Linked DNA regions of Homo sapiens. The protein of the gene in region 1 interacts with the protein of each later gene in a pairwise test. Each region holds a gene or a part of one and is shown in the gene's direction. Other genes may lie near its edges.

Region 1 (3,500 bases):
GCAATAGAACCTTAGATATGTTCAGTGTGACTGCTGGTATCACAGTTCTAAGCTTGAATATTATATTGTAAGATGGGAATAATGAAACTGTTGTTAGTTGTAGCAAAAATTGCTTGAGTTTATTATATTCTCCATTTCTAAGTGAGCAGTATTTGGAGTAAGATAAGCTGAATTTTGTGAACATCAAGTAAAGATTTTTTATTTATCCTTTAGGCAGAGAGCACAATTTTAACACCTATAGTGACGATATATCAGATTCCCTGAATGTTCCCTATGATTACACTTCAGTAATGCACTACAGTAAAACTGCATTCCAAAATGGAACAGAGCCGACAATTGTCACAAGAATCTCAGACTTTGAGGATGTGATCGGCCAACGAATGGATTTCAGTGACTCTGATCTCCTAAAGTTGAATCAACTGTATAACTGCTGTATGTGACAGGTTCTTTGAAATGACTTATATTTTCCGCTGTTATGTAGGAAAAAATGATGGTCTGTGCCATTTTGTCAAGCATTGGTGGGGTTTCTGCGATTATAGAGATTTGATATTCAGGAAATAAACAGAATAGCACTCAGATCTCAATCTACAACTTGGAAGCAGCATTTTTCTTTTCACCACGTCTGGTGTTGAGATCTAAAAACAAATTGGGTCCTGTAGGAATATGCCTCAGGCAAGTTTTTAAAGCTGTTACTAATTCAAACCTCGGTCAGATTGATACTCACACTTCCTTTTAGCCAAAATGATATGTCTAGTTGTAATATGAATGGGATCAAATAATCTGGATTGTGGCTTAATGATTCGAATAACTAGGGGAGTATAGACTCAGGTTTCTACAAATTAGAAAATTTTTTTTAAAAAAGACTTCAGGCAGGGAGCTTATTCAGATCTACAGAATTCATTACCTTCTTTGTAGGGGTTCTGCAAATAAAGAGGGATCTTTAAGCCACCATCATCCAGAATCAGCTAGGTGTTCCCTGTAATACCAACCTGGCATTTCTAATACTGTGATAAGTTCAGTTTTTGTTACTTAGATTATCATGTTGTATGAGTGTCAATAATTGTTTTTTGCTTTTTGTAGCCTCTTCCTTGAGTTTTATGGACTCGTGCAGTTTTGAACTGGAAAATGTGTGTGGCATGATCCAAAGTTCAGGAGATAATGCTGACTGGCAACGGGTTTCACAGGTTCCCAGGGGGCCAGAGAGTGATCACTCCAACATGGGCCAGTGCCAAGGTAACAGGAGTGAGATATTCCTAGACTGTATACTCAGTGGCTACAGCCACATACTTCTCTATGAAAGAATGGGATTTTATCTCTAATTTCTATCAGAATTATTAATGATTATTCATTAGGTTACTACTGAGAAGTAGGCCTTGCACCTGATAAAGACATTGTTAATTTCTTTGCTTTTCCTTCCTGAGTTTATTTTTCTTTCTACAAGTCAGAGCTGGGCTCTGTGATGCCTCTACCAGTGCGTTCCCATAGGAGAGTGTACCAGACTGGGCCTCCTGCAAGGCCTCTTATCTCAGGGGCAGTACTATTGTTTCCTAGAAGTTTGCAGAATACAAGAGACTCTTTCCAATGGACAGCACTAGGCTGCGAATTATTGTTTCAGAACTGTAGCTGGATGTGATTATATGCTCCTGTTACAAAAATATCTAAAAAGCAGAGTTTATTTAATTTTCTTCAGATGCGTATCCTTTTCCATTTTCATTTTGTTTTGCCTTAAGTAGTTATTTGGCTACAAGGACCAAATTTTTACGTATTTGCTTATTCTGGCATCAAATATGTAAAACTAGACTTCAGAACTTAGGGCCAGTGCTTAATAGCTCAGATGATCTAGGCAGGAATTGGAGGCCTCTAATGGCAAAAAGGTGCTTTTCCTTTTATTTTTCTTTTTAAATGCATATTTGGATAGTGGATAGTGGTCCTACTCAGACCAGAGGAAAGTAGATAGGGAGGGAGGGGGAAAAGAAGAAGAATCCAGACCAGGTAGCTCTCACTTTTTTCTGTTTTTGAAAACTAATTTCTGTGGTAAGGGAAAGGTTCCCTAATGTTGTCTCTTTCATAAATCGCCTGCTCCTAGAACCATATTTAAATGCCCAACACAATTCCCTGCATATAGTGGAAACTAAGCGAATACTTGAAATAAGGTAAAGAAAATTGGGCCGGGTGCAGTGGCTCATGCCTGTAATCCCCGGCCTTTGGGAGGCCAAGGTGGGCGGATTACCTGAGGTTGGGAGTTTGAGACCAGCTGGGCCAACATGGTGAAACCCTGTCTCTACTAAAAATGCAAAAATTAGCTGGGTGTGGTGGTGCATGTCTGTAGTCCCAGCTAGTTGGGTGACTGAGGCAGGAGAATCACTTGAACCCGGGGGGCAGAGGTTGTAGTGAGCTGAGATCATACCATTGCGTATCAGCCTGGACAACAGAGTAAGACGTTGTCTCAAAAAAAAAAAAAAAATGAAAGAAAATATATATACACTCAAACCAGAATTACTAGCTGTGCCTTCTTTAGAGATGGCTTAGAAGGTTAAGTATTGCAGATAATGAAAGCAGATAAGTGGGAGGTGCCTCTGAAATTATCAGGTTCAGTTATTCTCAATTTTTTCATTACAAGTATCATTTTAAAAATATTAAAATGTGAATCTCCCCAGATGGTTGCTGTAGTTAACAATATCTTCTGAAAGTTGAATTTCTTTCTTCCTTTTCTTTTTTTCTTCCTTCTTTTTTTGTGACAGTTTGAAGCCAAAGAAGTTAGAAAGTGTTTAAAAAAAAAAGGGGGGCGGGCAGGTCAGCCAAGGCCCTGGTTTCCTGGCTGGACTCTCACCTCTGTCCGCAGTGTGTGTTCACCTTTCCAGAAAGACCTAGAAGTTCACGTTGAATTACCCTTGGGAGACACAGATGCTACAACTCTCTACCCACCCAAGTTTCAAACCCTCGTTTTGACTTAATTTCCATTTTCCTTTTTCATATTCTCAGCGGGGGAACAACCCTCTGTAGCATCTTTGTCCAATGGTAGCTCTTTCCACTTGGAGCTGGACCAGGGTTTTGGACACTTGAAAGGTGTCCCATGTAGAATCTACCTTTTAGCCCTGCTGTTTGGGCTTGACCTGCAGCCTTACAGTGGATTTTTAAAAAGTTAGCATTTGATACTTAAACTTGCTTTATCTTTATAGCTCATAACAAATGAAGATAAGCAAGGATTAGTGCCCACGGAAAACTACTATTGTAAGTAAACGTTTTATAAATAATAGAGAGGTTTGAGTTTTATACTGTTATGTCAATCTGCTAGCTTTTGCAAGTGCCAGATATGTAGCTTAGGCTTCTGTCATTTCTCCCTGGCGATTTATATATGGATGTTACTTATGCCTCGCGTAAAGAATCTAGCACCACCATTAACAAACACACATTCCTATACCCAGTATCTGTTTTTCTCTCAATTCTGCTTTTCTTTAACAGGTTCTGGTTTCTTCATGCATTTCGATAGCAGCTCTGTA
Region 2 (4,164 bases), on another chromosome or scaffold:
TTAGTTACTTCTGAGAGGACAGCTTGCTGCCAGAGCTCTATTTTTTATGTTAGAGGCTCCTTCTGCCTGCAGACTCTGCTGTCTGGGAAGGGCACAGCGTTAGGAGGGAGAGGGAGGTGTGAGTCCCTCCATGGACCCGCTGCTTTGTACTTCTCTATCTCATTTCCTTTTCAGCACCACTCTGGGCAATCAGTATTCCAGCCCCATTTTATCCTCAGAAAATTGAGGCTCTGAGATGTTATCTCTGTGACCTGGGTCCTATTACGTGCCAAAGGCATCATTTAAGCCTAAGATGTCCTGGCTCCAAGGTGTCAGCATCTGGAAGACAGGCGCCCTCATCCTGCCATCCCTGCTGCGGCTTCACTGTGGGCCCAGGGGACATCTCAGCCCCGAGAAGGGTCAGCGGCCCCTCCTGGACCACCGACTCCCCGCAGAACTCCTCTGTGCCCTCTCCTCACCAGACCTTGTTCCTCCCAGTTGCTCCCACAGCCAGGGGGCAGTGAGGGCTGCTCTTCCCCCAGCCCCACTGAGGAACCCAGGAAGGTGAACGAGAGAATCAGTCCTGGTGGGGGCTGGGGAGGGCCCCAGACATGAGACCAGCTCCTCCCCCAGGGGATGTTATCAGTGGGTCCAGAGGGCAAAATAGGGAGCCTGGTGGAGGGAGGGGCAAAGGCCTCGGGCTCTGAGCGGCCTTGGCCCTTCTCCACCAACCCCTGCCCTACACTAAGGGGGAGGCAGCGGGGGGCACACAGGGTGGGGGCGGGTGGGGGGCTGCTGGGTGAGCAGCACTCGCCTGCCTGGATTGAAACCCAGAGATGGAGGTGCTGGGAGGGGCTGTGAGAGCTCAGCCCTGTAACCAGGCCTTGCCGGAGCCACTGATGCCTGGTCTTCTGTGCCTTTACTCCAAACACCCCCCAGCCCAAGCCACCCACTTGTTCTCAAGTCTGAAGAAGCCCCTCACCCCTCTACTCCAGGCTGTGTTCAGGGCTTGGGGCTGGTGGAGGGAGGGGCCTGAAATTCCAGTGTGAAAGGCTGAGATGGGCCCGAGGCCCCTGGCCTATGTCCAAGCCATTTCCCCTCTCACCAGCCTCTCCCTGGGGAGCCAGTCAGCTAGGAAGGAATGAGGGCTCCCCAGGCCCACCCCCAGTTCCTGAGCTCATCTGGGCTGCAGGGCTGGCGGGACAGCAGCGTGGACTCAGTCTCCTAGGGATTTCCCAACTCTCCCGCCCGCTTGCTGCATCTGGACACCCTGCCTCAGGCCCTCATCTCCACTGGTCAGCAGGTGACCTTTGCCCAGCGCCCTGGGTCCTCAGTGCCTGCTGCCCTGGAGATGATATAAAACAGGTCAGAACCCTCCTGCCTGTCTGCTCAGTTCATCCCTAGAGGCAGCTGCTCCAGGTAATGCCCTCTGGGGAGGGGAAAGAGGAGGGGAGGAGGATGAAGAGGGGCAAGAGGAGCTCCCTGCCCAGCCCAGCCAGCAAGCCTGGAGAAGCACTTGCTAGAGCTAAGGAAGCCTCGGAGCTGGACGGGTGCCCCCCACCCCTCATCATAACCTGAAGAACATGGAGGCCCGGGAGGGGTGTCACTTGCCCAAAGCTACACAGGGGGTGGGGCTGGAAGTGGCTCCAAGTGCAGGTTCCCCCCTCATTCTTCAGGCTTAGGGCTGGAGGAAGCCTTAGACAGCCCAGTCCTACCCCAGACAGGGAAACTGAGGCCTGGAGAGGGCCAGAAATCACCCAAAGACACACAGCATGTTGGCTGGACTGGACGGAGATCAGTCCAGACCGCAGGTGCCTTGATGTTCAGTCTGGTGGGTTTTCTGCTCCATCCCACCCACCTCCCTTTGGGCCTCGATCCCTCGCCCCTCACCAGTCCCCCTTCTGAGAGCCCGTATTAGCAGGGAGCCGGCCCCTACTCCTTCTGGCAGACCCAGCTAAGGTTCTACCTTAGGGGCCACGCCACCTCCCCAGGGAGGGGTCCAGAGGCATGGGGACCTGGGGTGCCCCTCACAGGACACTTCCTTGCAGGAACAGAGGTGCCATGCAGCCCCGGGTACTCCTTGTTGTTGCCCTCCTGGCGCTCCTGGCCTCTGCCCGTAAGCACTTGGTGGGACTGGGCTGGGGGCAGGGTGGAGGCAACTTGGGGATCCCAGTCCCAATGGGTGGTCAAGCAGGAGCCCAGGGCTCGTCCAGAGGCCGATCCACCCCACTCAGCCCTGCTCTTTCCTCAGGAGCTTCAGAGGCCGAGGATGCCTCCCTTCTCAGCTTCATGCAGGGTTACATGAAGCACGCCACCAAGACCGCCAAGGATGCACTGAGCAGCGTGCAGGAGTCCCAGGTGGCCCAGCAGGCCAGGTACACCCGCTGGCCTCCCTCCCCATCCCCCCTGCCAGCTGCCTCCATTCCCACCCGCCCCTGCCCTGGTGAGATCCCAACAATGGAATGGAGGTGCTCCAGCCTCCCCTGGGCCTGTGCCTCTTCAGCCTCCTCTTTCCTCACAGGGCCTTTGTCAGGCTGCTGCGGGAGAGATGACAGAGTTGAGACTGCATTCCTCCCAGGTCCCTCCTTTCTCCCCGGAGCAGTCCTAGGGCGTGCCGTTTTAGCCCTCATTTCCATTTTCCTTTCCTTTCCCTTTCTTTCTCTTTCTATTTCTTTCTTTCTTTCTTTCTTTCTTTCTTTCTTTCTTTCTTTCTTTCTTTCTTTCTTTCTTTCTTTCCTTTCTTTCTTTCCTTTCTTTCTTTCCTTTCTTTCTTTCTTTCCTTTCTTTCTCTTTCTTTCTTTCTTTCCTTTTTCTTTCTTTCCCTCTCTTCCTTTCTCTCTTTCTTTCTTCTTCTTTTTTTTTTAATGGAGTCTCCCTCTGTCACCTAGGCTGGAGTGCAGTGGTGCCATCTCGGCTCACTGCAACCTCCGTCTCCCGGGTTCAACCCATTCTCCTGCCTCAGCCTCCCAAGTAGCTGGGATTACAGGCACGCGCCACCACACCCAGCTAATTTTTGTATTTTTAGCAGAGATGGGGTTTCACCATGTTGGCCAGGTTGGTCTTGAATTCCTGACCTCAGGGGATCCTCCTGCCTCGGCCTCCCAAAGTGCTGGGATTACAGGCATGAGCCACTGCGCCTGGCCCCATTTTCCTTTTCTGAAGGTCTGGCTAGAGCAGTGGTCCTCAGCCTTTTTGGCACCAGGGACCAGTTTTGTGGTGGACAATTTTTCCATGGGCCAGCGGGGATGGTTTTGGGATGAAGCTGTTCCACCTCAGATCATCAGGCATTAGATTCTCATAAGGAGCCCTCCACCTAGATCCCTGGCATGTGCAGTTCACAATAGGGTTCACACTCCTATGAGAATGTAAGGCCACTTGATCTGACAGGAGGCGGAGCTCAGGCGGTATTGCTCACTCACCCACCACTCACTTCGTGCTGTGCAGCCCGGCTCCTAACAGTCCATGGACCAGTACCTATCTATGACTTGGGGGTTGGGGACCCCTGGGCTAGGGGTTTGCCTTGGGAGGCCCCACCTGACCCAATTCAAGCCCGTGAGTGCTTCTGCTTTGTTCTAAGACCTGGGGCCAGTGTGAGCAGAAGTGTGTCCTTCCTCTCCCATCCTGCCCCTGCCCATCAGTACTCTCCTCTCCCCTACTCCCTTCTCCACCTCACCCTGACTGGCATTAGCTGGCATAGCAGAGGTGTTCATAAACATTCTTAGTCCCCAGAACCGGCTTTGGGGTAGGTGTTATTTTCTCACTTTGCAGATGAGAAAATTGAGGCTCAGAGCGATTAGGTGACCTGCCCCAGATCACACAACTAATCAATCCTCCAATGACTTTCCAAATGAGAGGCTGCCTCCCTCTGTCCTACCCTGCTCAGAGCCACCAGGTTGTGCAACTCCAGGCGGTGCTGTTTGCACAGAAAACAATGACAGCCTTGACCTTTCACATCTCCCCACCCTGTCACTTTGTGCCTCAGGCCCAGGGGCATAAACATCTGAGGTGACCTGGAGATGGCAGGGTTTGACTTGTGCTGGGGTTCCTGCAAGGATATCTCTTCTCCCAGGGTGGCAGCTGTGGGGGATTCCTGCCTGAGGTCTCAGGGCTGTCGTCCAGTGAAGTTGAGAGGGTGGTGTGGTCCTGACTGGTGTCGTCCAGTGGGGACATGGGTGTGGGTCCCAT
Region 3 (3,500 bases), on another chromosome or scaffold:
CACATTTGTCAACTAAGGCCTTGAGCAGGGCACTCCTTTCTTGGCATGGAAACTTTCTTTGACCTTGAATGCGGGTCAGTACCTCCTCACAGAGGTACCAAGGAGAATTAATGAGAGGCTTATATGAAATTTGAGCTCCTCCAAAGCAGAATATTTTAATTCTTGGATGAATGGTATATTTTGAGATGTGATAAAAGTTTTTTAAAAGAGTTTGAAGTTCTAAGTTTTTGGAAAAGCCCTATTCAAGTCCTTCCTTTTTTTTTTTTTTTTTTTTTTTTTCAGAAACAGGGCTTGCTATGTTGCCCAGGTTGGTCTCTAACTCCTGGGTTCAAGTGATCCTCCCACCTCAACCCTGTGAGTAGCTGGGACTACAGGCGACCATGCCTGGCTATCTAAGACCTTTTTGCTGATTTGGTTTTTTTAATTTTTTTGAGACAGGTTCTGGCTCTGTTGCCTGGGCTGGAGTGCAGTGGTGTAATCGCAGCTCACTGCAACCTCCACCTCCTGGGCTCAAGCCATCCTCCCGACTCAGTCTCCTGAGTAGCTGGGACTACAGGCCTGCACCACCACACCTAGCTAATTTTTTGTGTTTTTTGTGGAGATGGAGTTTTGACATGTTGCCCAGGCTCCCCTCAAACTCCTAGGCTCAAGCAATCTGCCTGCCTCAGCCTCCCAAAGTGCTGGGATTACAGGCATGAGCTACCATGCCTGGACTTTTTGCTGGTTTTTTGTTTTGTTTGGCTTTGTTTTTTCCTGGGGTTTTATGGGCTTGGTTACTAATCAGCCTGTAATCAAGATCTGAGGCCCGGTGCGGTAATCCTAGCACTTTGGGAGGCTGAGGCAAGAGGATCGCTTGAGCCCAGGAGTTCAAGACCAGCCTGAGCAACACAGGGAGACCCCATAGCTACAAAAAATTTTTAAAAATTAGCTGGGCATGTGGTATGTGCCTGTAATCCTAGCTACTCAGGAGGCTGAGGTGGGAGGATCGCTGGAGCCCAGGAGTTTGAGGCTGCAATGAACCATGATCACGCCACCGCACTCCAGCCTGGAAGACAGAATGACATCTTGTCGCTTAAAAAAAAAAAAAATGGCTGGGCACGGTGGCCCACACCTGTAATCTCAGCACTTTGGGAGGCCGAGGTGGGTGGATTGCTTGAGGCCAGGAGTTCGAGACCAGCCTGGCCAACATGGCGAAACCCTGTCTCTACTAAAATTACAAAAACTAGCTGAGCATGGTGGCATACGCCTGTAATCCCAGCTAAGTCGGGAGGCTGAGGCACAAGAATTGCTTGAACCCAGGAGGCGGAGGTTGCAATGAGCCAAGATTGTGCCACTGCACTCCAGCCTGGGAGACAGAGGAAGACTCTGTCTGAAAAATAAAAATAAAAATTTGGAAGCCTGAGGCTAACTAAATTCCTGTTTATATTTCATATATAAATAGTAAAGCTCAGATTGTTCACTCTCTTTTTTTTCTTTCTTTTCTTTTCTTTTGAGACAGAGTCTTGCTCTGTCTCCCAGGCCGGAGTGCAATGGCACGATCTCAGCTCACTGCAACCTCTGCCTCCCAGGTTCAAACGATTCTCCTGCCTCAGCCTCCCGAGTAGCTGGGACTACAGGCATGCACTACCATGCCTGGCTAATTTTTTGTATTTTTTAGTAGAGACGGGGTTTCACCACGTTGGCCAGGCTGGTCTCGAACTCCTGACCTCAGGTGATCCACCCGCCTCAGCCTCCCAAAGTGCTGGGATTACAGACGTGAGTCACCGCGCCCAGCCTCACTCTCTTTTTTCTTTTATTCTCTGTTAACCTGGTCTTGGCTTTTTTTGGAGTGCCTGGAGTAAACCAGTAACAGAAGGCTGTGGAACTGGCAGCCTATGACCCAGCATCTTTTTTAACAGCAAGAGTATTATCAGAAAGTGTCACAGCCCTCAAAGGAGTAAGTTATTAAGCTGGTCAGAGACAAAAGGGAGTAAGATTGTTCAGTAAATTGGATGAGGAGTGAAATAGTCATCTTTTAAAATTTCCCTCACCTGTGTCAGGCCACCAGTCCTGTCACTCAATCTAGTAGGATTCGAGTGCTTGCTGATGTGCCCAGGGACACTACGTACTGAACTACAACATCCATCTTTTAGACTTCTGACATTTGTTGGCCAGGTCAAGCTCTCTCTCATGAGGGAAATTCTGACAGAAAAGGCTTTCTGTTATCTGTAGGCTTAGCTGAGTGCCATGTTTCAGGCTTCCAAGCTCCTCACGCTTGGCCAAGGCTACTAATTGGCTTGGCTATAAAATGGGAGTCAGCAATTAAACAGCAGTAGTATAAAGCAAGGGAATTGAACATAAACTGACCCTCCCACTTTACAACCAAAAATGTTCACACCATTTTGGGCACTACACAAAGGAGTCTTCAAAAGGAAGTGAGCTTGGAATGATTCCTTTATAGCTTTTAGGAGATGTATGTGGAATATTATTATTGATTTAGGCCTCCAAGTCAGATCTTGGAAACTGGGTAGGTCCTCACATCTAAAGCAAAGGAGACAAATGGTTTGAATCCAGTCTCTGTGGGCAGCAAGCTTGTGGTATGACTTTGCCAAAACAACAGATGATTTATATTTTTCTAAACTCTTTTCATTAAATGGTTTAAGGGAGAATATTGATGGTCATGGTGGGAGGAGGGTTTGATCTACCTGAATTTACTCACTGAAGAGTAAATGCCTTATTCAGAGGTTCCTATCACTAGTTTCCTGATTATTTGTACTAAAGAATCATTAGCCAGTCTCAAGAGCATTGGCTCAGAAAACATCGTAACTGAAAACTATCTAGGCATGCTTCTTATTCAGAGAAAAGTAGGGATGGGAAACAGTTGAACTACAAAGACATTTGGGGAGAGGAAGACCTGGGAAATGGTGCTAGACTTCTGCCACGTTAAACGTTTAATGCTGCACGCAGTACTTTACTGGTCAGCTTTCAGTTTCAGAATCTTAGGCAGAGTCAGTTGGGGAGAAAGTGTGTGAAGAGGGGGACATTTGTAAGAATGTGGCTATTCTGTGAGCCCTTATTGTTAAGTCGAATACTTAGTGCTTTCCTGCTGCCACTAGCTTCCTGGACACTCCAGACTTTGCCCTTCTGCCTCTTCCCCACTAACAGCCTTTCCTCCCCAACACCACCCTCTCTAAAGCCAATCTAATCTTTGATCGCAGTTTCTGCACCCTTCTGGCTCTGCTAACTTTGTTGAACTAATTTTTGGTGGCCTTTAATGTCTGGTGGTGGCTGTGTGAGAAACTAATGAGGGATAATTGTATTTACTTACTGATTATTATTTTGCTTTAGGGACAATCTGCCAGACTGGAGTGCATGGCATGATCATAGCTCAGTGCAGGCTCAAACTCCTGGGCTCAAAAGATCTTCCCACCTCAGTCTCCTGAGTAGCTAGGACTACAGGCACATATCACTGTGCCTGGTTAATTTTTTATTTATATTTCATAGAGATGGGGGTCTCACTA
Region 4 (2,967 bases), on another chromosome or scaffold:
TTCTGTCTGCCATACCTGTCACCTCTTGTCTATCTCCTCTGCATCAGCACTCCAAGCCTTGGCTTTATCCTGCTATATCAGTTATCACTCATTTTTCCATCTAGTTTCCATTTTCCAGAATTTTGTTAAAATTTCTGACCCTTTGATGAATTATCTTGCTGTTTTGTTATGGATTTATATGTTTTTTTTGTTTTTTTTTTTTTGAGACGGAGTGTCTCACTGTCACCAGGCTGGAGTGCAGTGGTGCGATCTCGGCTCACTGCAACCTCCGACTCCCTGGTTCAAGCGATTCTCCTGTCTCAGCCTCCCAAGTAGCTGAGATTATAGGCACGGGCCACCACGCCCAGCTAATTTTTTTGTATTTTTAGTAGAGATGGGGTTTTACCATGTTGACCAGGCTGGTCTTGATCTCCTGGCCTCATGATCCACCCACCTCGGCCTCCCAAAGTGTTGGGATTACAGGCGTGAGCCACCATGCCTGGCCTATATGTTCTTTTAATGCCTTTACCATTATTCTGTGGAGTCTTGGGAAGGAGAGGAAATAAATGCATGTTTTTATTTGCCATCTTTAATTGGACTGCTTAATGTAAAACTGTTCGTGTTATAAATTCCCCCTCATATATTTGGTTTTGTGACTGCAGTAGTGTAAATTCTCTGCCTAGAATTTTAAAGAAAGTGATTCTGTATGTGATTAGGGAGTAAGGTTCAGATAACCTTGAGTGGTTTAAAGTTTCCTACTGAGTAATCTGAACAAGGCGGATTTAAGATACTGCAGACAGAGTGTGAGAATAACTCTCTCTTCACAACTTAAGAAGCCTGGTTCCTTATTTACAACTGGGATAAGATAAATGGTTGAATACCTAGAGAAGTTCCACAAAAAGTTACACAAAAAGTTTAGTTAAATTTAAGTTAAAAGTTAGTTAAAATGAAAAGTTAAGTTTTTATTCTGCTACTAAACCATGCTCCTCTGCGTGTCTGAACCTTCAGGTTCCTCTAGATTTCTAGCACCTGAAAGAAAACAAAACTGCAGCATCAGCCAGGTAGGCCTCTCCTAATCTTACTCATTCACAGAGAATTTCCCCTTTGAGTCACCATGGCATTGGCTGGTTACTCATACCACAGATCCCTCAGGATTGGCTGGGACTGCAAATAAAATACTGTTTGCCCATAATCAAGTTGATAAGCTACAACATAAACACATCTAGGTTCTTGTTCTTAGAATACAGCATGAAGAATTTGCTTTCTTCTTTCTTCCTAACATTTTCATGTGAGATCCAGAAAGGACACATTGTCTCTGGCCATTCGAAGAAAGAAAGAAAGAAAAAAAAAAAAGGTATTTAGAGACAGAGAGAGAAAAAGGCTGAAATGGGTTCGCTGGGTTCTAAAAATCCGCAAACCAAACAAGCCCAAGTTCTTCTTTTGGGACTTGACTCAGCTGGGAAGTCTACTCTCCTTTATAAATTAAAGCTTGCTAAGGATATTACCACCATCCCTACAATAGGTTTCAATGTGGAAATGATCGAGTTGGAAAGGAATCTTTCACTCACAGTCTGGGATGTTGGAGGACAGGAAAAAATGAGAACTGTTTGGGGCTGTTACTGTGAGAACACCGATGGGCTGGTGTATGTTGTGGACAGTACAGACAAACAGCGACTGGAAGAGTCTCAGAGACAGTTTGAGCACATTTTGAAGAATGAACACATTAAAAATGTGCCTGTTGTTCTATTAGCCAACAAACAAGACATGCCTGGAGCTCTGACTGCTGAGGACATCACCAGAATGTTCAAAGTGAAGAAGCTTTGCAGTGACCGGAACTGGTATGTGCAACCCTGCTGTGCCCTCACAGGGGAGGGGCTGGCCCAGGGGTTCAGGAAATTAACTGGATTTGTGAAGAGCCACATGAAATCAAGAGGAGACACTTTGGCGTTCTTCAAGCAGAACTGAGGCTGCGAAAAATCCAAGTCTCTACAGAGACACTGATGAAGTTGAAAGGGTAATTGTTTTTCCATGCCAAATGAGGAAATCAAATTAATGAGTTGACAAACTTTTCCTGAGATGTTATTTCATCTACATTTAGTTAAACAACTTAGAATGATATCTAGAAAATATTTATTTTCAGCCAGGAACTTTAGCAAACTGTGGCAATGATCACTGGGAATGAAAACGTATAATGTTCTACAATTTTTGTTATCACATTGGATGACTTTGAATATAGTAGTGACACTTGGGACCAAATAAATTATTTTATATGACTACTAGAACAAAGTTTTAGTAAGCTGTCTGCTAATAGAGTCAGAATTCTTCCAGATTGTTTCCAGCTGTAACAGGTATTGAATTTCCACCGTGCTCCTATGTAACAGCTGGGTGGTGTAAAAAATGAACTTCAAATTATGGAGTGGAAAAAGCGTAATGTTAATATCTTGTAAATTCGTATTCCCTATTAAATAAAGCTTTCTTATTCCCTAAATAAAGCTGTTCTTCTGGATTCCTGCCAGCTTTTTGAAATCTATTGCTGGGAACTTCCTCCAATGAATCTTAAACAATGAACTTCAGGCTGCTAATTGCTCAGAGCCTGTGTTCTGCCATAGGGAGCAGAAGTGTATAAACTTAAAGGTCTGGTGATCGGGGTAGCACCTTGGAGTTTAGGGCAAGATCTGGGCTCAGGGCTTAGCTCTAGGCTACAGCCCCGAGTCTTGCTTCCTTGGAATTCAGCTTAACAGCCATTGCTTGGAAACATATGTGCAGCTCATTGTACTGATCAAACAGGAACCAGACCTAGACTTTGCTCTCAGAGACCTACAATTCACAGCAGGAAACAACATAAAGCTAGTAGCTAGAGTAGGGCAATAAGTGCTAAGTGCGATTGCAGGAGATACTCTTTTTAACCAGGGAAACAAGAAATGTTTCATGCAGGAGATGGTATTTTAGAGGGTCCCTCACTCCCAGTGACCCTACAAAGGTACAGGT

The links. The genes of interacting proteins can lie anywhere in the genome.
Region 2: the proteins of MEP1B (region 1) and APOC3 interact in a protein complementation assay, tested with the Homo sapiens proteins (one study listed by IntAct).
Region 3: the proteins of MEP1B (region 1) and CYSTM1 interact in a protein complementation assay, tested with the Homo sapiens proteins (one study listed by IntAct).
Region 4: the proteins of MEP1B (region 1) and ARL14 interact in a protein complementation assay, tested with the Homo sapiens proteins (one study listed by IntAct).

The regions. Positions count from the first base shown.
Region 1 is NC_000018.10:32,207,039-32,210,538, forward strand, and holds part of MEP1B (meprin A subunit beta isoform 1 precursor), read left to right. Parts: intron 1-213; coding exon 214-432; intron 433-1,080; coding exon 1,081-1,233; intron 1,234-3,462; coding exon 3,463-3,500. UniProt on the Homo sapiens protein: Membrane metallopeptidase that sheds many membrane-bound proteins. Exhibits a strong preference for acidic amino acids at the P1' position. Known substrates include: FGF19, VGFA, IL1B, IL18, procollagen I and III, E-cadherin, KLK7, gastrin, ADAM10, tenascin-C.
Region 2 is NC_000011.10:116,828,543-116,832,706, forward strand, and holds the start of APOC3 (apolipoprotein C-III precursor), read left to right. Parts: upstream 1-1,364; 5' UTR 1,365-1,398; intron 1,399-2,027; 5' UTR 2,028-2,040; coding exon 2,041-2,095; intron 2,096-2,230; coding exon 2,231-2,354; intron 2,355-4,164. UniProt on the Homo sapiens protein: Component of triglyceride-rich very low density lipoproteins (VLDL) and high density lipoproteins (HDL) in plasma. Plays a multifaceted role in triglyceride homeostasis.
Region 3 is NC_000005.10:140,178,188-140,181,687, forward strand, and holds part of CYSTM1 (cysteine-rich and transmembrane domain-containing protein 1), read left to right. Parts: intron 1-3,500.
Region 4 is NC_000003.12:160,675,982-160,678,948, forward strand, and holds ARL14 (ADP-ribosylation factor-like protein 14), read left to right. Parts: upstream 1-1,178; 5' UTR 1,179-1,365; coding exon 1,366-1,944; 3' UTR 1,945-2,467; downstream 2,468-2,967. UniProt on the Homo sapiens protein: GTPase that recruits MYO1E to MHC class II-containing vesicles via the effector protein ARL14EP and hence controls the movement of these vesicles along the actin cytoskeleton in dendritic cells.